Linked DNA regions of Homo sapiens: region 2 is linked to region 1. Evidence: fine-mapped expression QTL. A gene starts in region 1. The other region holds a variant in brackets. All regions are shown on one strand. Distances are between the middles of the regions.

Region 1 (2,820 bases):
CCAGAGCCAGGGAAATGAAAACCAGAGTCCAACTGCTTTCGAGGTCTACCATTCCCCACCACCAAAGCACCTACAATGTGCAATGTTTAAGAGCCTGGGCTCTGGCAGGGCACAGTGGCTCACGGCTGTAATCCCAGCACTTTGGGAGGCCGAGGAGGGTGGATCATGAGGTCAGGAGTTCGAGACCAGGCTGGCCACCATGGTGAAACCCCATCTGTACTAAAAATACAAAAATTAGCCAAGCGCGGTGGCGGGCGCCTGTGATCCCAGCTACTCGGGAGGCTGAGGCAGAATTGCTTGAACTCGGGAGGTGGAGGTTGCGGTGAGCAGAGATCGCACCACTGCACTGTAGCTGGGGCGACAGAGCAAGACTCTGTCTCAAAAAAAAAAAAAAAAAAAAAAAAGAAAGGAAAAAAAAGCCGGGGCTCTGGGGTCAGCTGTCTGGGTTCGAATCCCTCAATTTATAGGCCGTGAGAACTTGGGCACGTGACTTAACCTTTGAGCCTCAGTTTCCTCCACGACAAAATGTGGAAATGAGACCTACAACGAATTATGTCTGTACATAGCTTATCGGGGGATCTGCTAAGCGTGGAGCTCAATAAATATTCGCTATGGTTGTTGGGAGGGGCTCCCCATAATGAGTGACGGCTCAACAAAGGTGCGATTGGTCCCAGTCCCACCCGAGCCTCCTAAATCGATCCAGGAGGTCCACTCACCTCCCCACGAGCCTCCTCTGTCCCCCCGCGCCGAAAGCCCAGTTCTCTCAAAACTTGGGGGCCCAAGTCACAAACTTTTCTCTTCCAATGGATATAGCAGGAGGCAAACTGGAGACCGGACCCTCAGCGATCTGGCTTCCTCTGCCGGGACAGAAAGCAACTTGATACTCGACCGCTACCCCCACCCCAGAGCTCCCCCACTGCGCTTGCGCACCCCCGCCCCCCAAAAGTGAGGAAGGGCCCGGGCAGTAAGTGCTGCCTCTGGCCCTTTAAGACTTAGGGGAGGGCGTGGGTTCCGCTGGGGTCCTGGGAGGGCAGTTGCGCCTGCGCCTTCTTTTCCCCTCCTCACCGACTCGGAGGGAATGGGCGGGGCCTAAAGGGCTCTGAGAATTTCACTACGCCTGCGCCCGCTCACCTTTACCCTGCCCACAGATTTTTCCAGAGGGAGCCAATTGGCTCCGGCTTCGGGTAGATGGGCGGGGCTATCTCAAGAAGAAGAAGTAGGGGAAGTACGCGGGGCGTCTGGAACTTAAAGGGGCAGCGTACCTTGGCCGTCCCGTTCCACAACAAGGTCCCTTCTGCGGTCTCAAAGGCTTATAAGCAAGGGCGGGGGCAGAGGGCTAAAGAAGGGAGTTTTTGCGGCCCGAGTGGGTAATGCGTGGAGGACTCCCCCAACTCGTCTCTCAAGGAAAAGGGGGTTCAGAAAGGGAGAGAGTTCTTCCCCCTCTCCTGCCTGGGTGTCGCTCCACCAGCCTCCTGGCCGTCGCGCCCCCTCCTCACTGCGCCACCCCCGGGTGTGCCTCCTTCCCTGCGTCTCACACAGCCCCTTTCTTGTCCGCAAAGACTGAGGAGCGGGGAGGGCGGGCCCTCTGACACCGGAACAGGAGCCGTGCGGCGTCCGGTTTCAGCAGGGAAGGCTTAGGCGGGCGTCCCAACCTCCGGGCTTCCGGTGCCGTTTCCCGGTTCGCTCGGCCGCGGTCGCTATGGAGGAGCCGGAGATGCAGCTCAAGGGGAAGAAAGGTGGTGCGGGCCTGCGGGCGGGACAGAGGGGGCCGGTAACTTGTGGAGGGGCGGCCTGACAAAGGCCGGGCGCGGAGGGACCGTGCGAGGAGCAGTGATTGAACTGCCGTCCAATCCCAGCTCTGCCGCTGACTAGTTTTGAAACCTGTAGAAAGGCTCCGTGTCTGCTTTAATTACCGGTCCCCCCAGGATTGTTTCAAGAATTCAGTAGCTGAGGCTGGGAGTGGTGGCTTTGTAATCCCAGCACTTTGGGAGGCCTAGGCGGGAGGATCGCTTGAGCCCGAGACCAGCCTAGGTGACATAGTGAGATCTCGTCTCTAAAAAAATACAAAAATTAGCCGGGCGTGGTGGCGCACGCCTGTGGTCCCAGCTACTTGGGCGGCTAAGGTGGGAGGATTGCTTGAGCCCGGGAGGTCAAGGCTGCACTGCAGTGGGCTACGGTCGTGCCACTGCACCCCCAGCCTGGGTGACAAGTGAGACCCTGTCTAAAAAAAAAAAACTCAACAACCTGATATTTGTAATGCATTGGAAGAATCCCCGGGGCGTAGTAATCGCTGTGCGTCTTGTTTCCTTTTTTTTTTTTTTTTTTGAGACAAGGTATCACACTGTCGCCCAGGCTGGGGTGCGGTGGCGCGATCATGGCTCACTGTAGCCTCGATCTCTCTGGCGCGGGCGATCCTCTTGCCTCAGCTTCTCCAGTAGCTGGGACTACAAGTGCACACCACCACATCAGGCTAATTCTTTAATTTTTTTTTTTTTTGACGGAGTCTCGCTCTGTCACCCAGGCTGGAGTGCCGTGGGGGGATCTCAGCTCACTGCAACCTCAGCCCCCTGAGTAGCTAGGATTACAGGCACACACCCCCATGCCCAGCTAATTTTTTTGTATTTTTAGTAGAGACGGGGTTTCACCTTGTTGCTCAGGCTAGTCTCGAACTCCTGACCTCGAGTGATCCACCCACCTTGGCCTCCCAAAGTGCTGGGATTACAGGTGTGAACCACTGCACCCAGCTAATCCCCTATACTTTAAATCACCCTAGATTACTCACATCTAGAATACATAATACAGGCCTACACATCACTTCAT
Region 2 (2,973 bases), 27 kb after region 1:
TTATAAATATGGGGTCTTGTCATGTTGCCCAGGCTGGTCGTGAATTCCTGTACTCAAGCACTCAGCCCACCTTGGCATCCCAAAGTTCTGGGATTATAGGCGTGAGCCACCGCACCTGGCCCACTTATTTATTTATTTATTTATAGAGACAAGGTCTCCCTATGTTGCCCAAGCTGGTCTCGAACTCCTGGGCTCAAGCCATCAGCCCACCTCGGCCTTCCAAAGTGCTGGGATTAGAGGCATGAGCCACCACGCCCTGCCCTTCTGGAAGATTCAAGGCACAGAGTGGTCTAGAGACAGATGTCTTTCTGTCTTTCCTTGAGTGTTGCAGTCATGGCTCCCTGTGACCTTGAACTCCTGGGCTCAAGCCATCCTGTCACCTCAGTCTCCCGAGTAGCTGGGATTGTAGGGGAGTGCTACCTTGCCTGGCTTTTTTTTTTTTTTTAATTGGAGATGGGGGGGTCTCCCTATGTTGCTCAGGCTGGTCTTGAACTCCTGAGCTCAAATGGTCCTCCTGCCTCGGCCTCCCAAAGTGCTGGGATTACAGGCATGAGCCCAACCAGATGCCATTTTTCTGAGACGACTTAGAAATGTGTCTGGGATCCCTTTTGGGGTCAGGGAACTCGCCCCAGCCCTGGCCCATGATTCCCCATGGGGTGGGCAAGGAAGTTAAATCCCATTTCTCAGCCCCCAAAGGGCCTCTCTGGGGCTGTATCTTGGGGACTTGTGTGGTTACCCTGATACCCTGCGGCCCAGGATTGAGTTTCTTGGACCCTGTGACGGTGATTCTGGGCTGGACAAGCCCAGGCCCACTTCCCAGCCTGGGTGGGGGTGGTGAGATTGAGGTGCCACGTGATGGCCCTGGGGTACAAGCCCAGGATTGGGTGGGGATCTGGAGGTCTCACCATGTGGCCCTGGAAGAAGCCTGCCCACTCCTGTGCAAAACAGGGCAACTATCGCTGCTTCCCTGGGGTGTCTGGGGGTCAGGCAGGTCTTATATGTAAATGAGGCGGGGTGTGGGCCCGGGCAGACAGTAAGGGCTCAATAACAGAAGGTCCCATCTGGGCTGTGACCAAGTGGAGGTGTTTGTGAGCCCATCCAGGCCCCTTTCCTCTCTGCCCTCTGCCAGGTGCTGTTTCCCTCCAAGCCCAGTTTCACCCAAGGTCAAGGTGGGGCCTGAGGAAGGGAGAAATGGAGGTGGATTGTAATAAGAGTCATGGCTGCTGTGGGCATGGGCCTGCCTTGCCCACTGTTCCAACCTGTGGCCTGTGCCTGGTCCAAGCCCTACCATCCCTGGCTGGATGCTGGCCTGGCTTCCTGCTCCAACAGGCCACAGGGTCTTCTGAAAATTCCAAATCAGACCACAGTCCTCCCCCTCCTCACACACCTTCCATGGCTCCCTATTGCTCTACAGTCCACCCTCTCTCTGTCCCCCAATGCCTCTCTGACCTTCTCTGTCTCTGGCCACTCCTGGCTCACTCCACCCCAGATG[T/C]GTGGGGTTTGCCTGCTCCTGGAAGCCACCTGTTTAGCACAGTCCCACCTCAGGGCCTTTGCACCTGCCATTGTGTCCACCTGGCTCCCACCTCCCTGAGACACCTCAGAGACAGGGTCTTGCTCTGTCACCCAGGCTGGAGTGCAGTGGTGCGATCTCGGCTCACTGCAATCTCCGCCTCCCGGGTTCAAGCAATTCTCATACCTCAGCCTCCTGAGTAGCCGGGATTACAGGTGTGGTACCCTCCTGGATCCTCTGTCCAAAGCAGCTCTCTCCCTGCCACCCTCCACTGCCTCCCCCTGTTGAATTTCTTCCTTGAAGGCCGTCTTCCCAGATACGGTTATGTGGCTGCTGTTGCCTCCCCCATCAGACTGGGTGATGGGGGGAGGCCTTGCTCTGCCCACCCCCTGCTCCTGCATCCCCAGCACCTGAGGGGCTCCTAGACATTTCTGCGGGAAGATATTGGGGACTGACAGTGTCCTAAAGCCCCATCTCGGGGTCCCTGCTGGCTGCATCTTCGGGCTGCCGGGCTGTGGGCAGGGTCCCTTCTGCCCAGCGCTGACAGATGTGCTAATTTCCCAAGCAGGGAGGCTGGGGCATCTGGGGATCCATTTCTGAGGCCCCGCAGGGAGAGCTTTCTCTGGAACAAAGAGAGGAAAACCTTGGGCTGTCCCTGCAGCCACTACTGTGGCTTAGGGGACATCACTAGGGGCCTGAGAGGGCCTTAGACTCTAGCCTGCATGGGACAGCAGGGTCAAATTCAGACTGCGGGGTCTGTCTTGGCTCCATGGGCTGGGTGACCTCTGACTCCTGGGTTCAAGTGATTCTCCTGCCTCAGCCTCCTGAGTAGCTGGGATTACAGGCGCCCGCCATCATGCCCGGCTAATTTTTGTATTTTCAGTAGAGATGGGGTTTCACTATGTTGGCCAGGCTGGTCTCAAACTCCTGACCTCAAGTGATCTGCCCACCTCGGTCTCCCAAAGTAGTGGGATTACAGGCGTGAGCCACCGCACCCGGCCTGGAACAGGCCTTCTTGGCAGGTGAGGGTGCCTGTGCCAGGTCAGGTTTGCCATGGATGGTCACCTGGACGTGGTTTTCTCCCAAGCTGGGCAGTGGGACCTTCAGAGGGCCAGTTCCTTGGCCTGAGAGGAGCATCAGCACTGTCCAATTGGCTGTTTTGCTGTGAAGGTTGTTTAGAGGAAGGGCCACAAACTGGCAGCCTGTGGGCTGGATGGGGCCTTAAATTTGTTGTGTGGACCATGAGGTGTTTCAGTGAGAAGTGAACAAGTAGGGCCGGGCTCACGGCTGTAATCCCAGCACTTTGGGAGGCTGAGGTGGGTGGATCACCTGAAGGTCAGGAGTTCGAGACCATTCTGACCAACATGGAGAAACCCTGTCTCTACTAAAAATAAAAAATTAGCTGGGCATGGTGGGGGCGAGCCTGTGATCCCAGCTACTAGGGAGGCTGAGGCAGGAGAATC

Evidence for each region. PIP is the estimated chance that this variant, and not a neighbour inherited with it, causes the effect.
Region 2: its variant is fine-mapped to the expression of BORCS8 in cerebellar hemisphere (GTEx, PIP 0.97).

Annotation. Positions count from the first base shown.
Region 1 is chr19:19,190,997-19,193,816 of GRCh38, reverse strand. It overlaps BORCS8 (BLOC-1 related complex subunit 8), which reads left to right and starts at 1,665. Exons shown (of 6, transcript NM_001145784.2): 1 at 1,665-1,736. The coding sequence starts at 1,700. BORCS8-MEF2B (BORCS8-MEF2B readthrough) reads left to right here and starts at 1,665. Exons shown (of 12, transcript NR_027308.2): 1 at 1,665-1,736. RFXANK (regulatory factor X associated ankyrin containing protein) reads right to left here and starts at 1,559. Exons shown (of 10, transcript NM_003721.4): 1 at 1,263-1,559; 2 at 717-857. RefSeq lists an enhancer at 693-782.
Region 2 is chr19:19,164,070-19,167,042 of GRCh38, reverse strand. The region is part of intron 5 of BORCS8-MEF2B (BORCS8-MEF2B readthrough); the gene reads left to right. All of the region lies in intron 1 of MEF2B (myocyte enhancer factor 2B), which reads left to right. Among named protein-coding and RNA genes, the nearest start is that of MEF2B, 4.7 kb to the left of the region's middle. The variant T/C (reference allele first, on the strand shown) is at 1,493.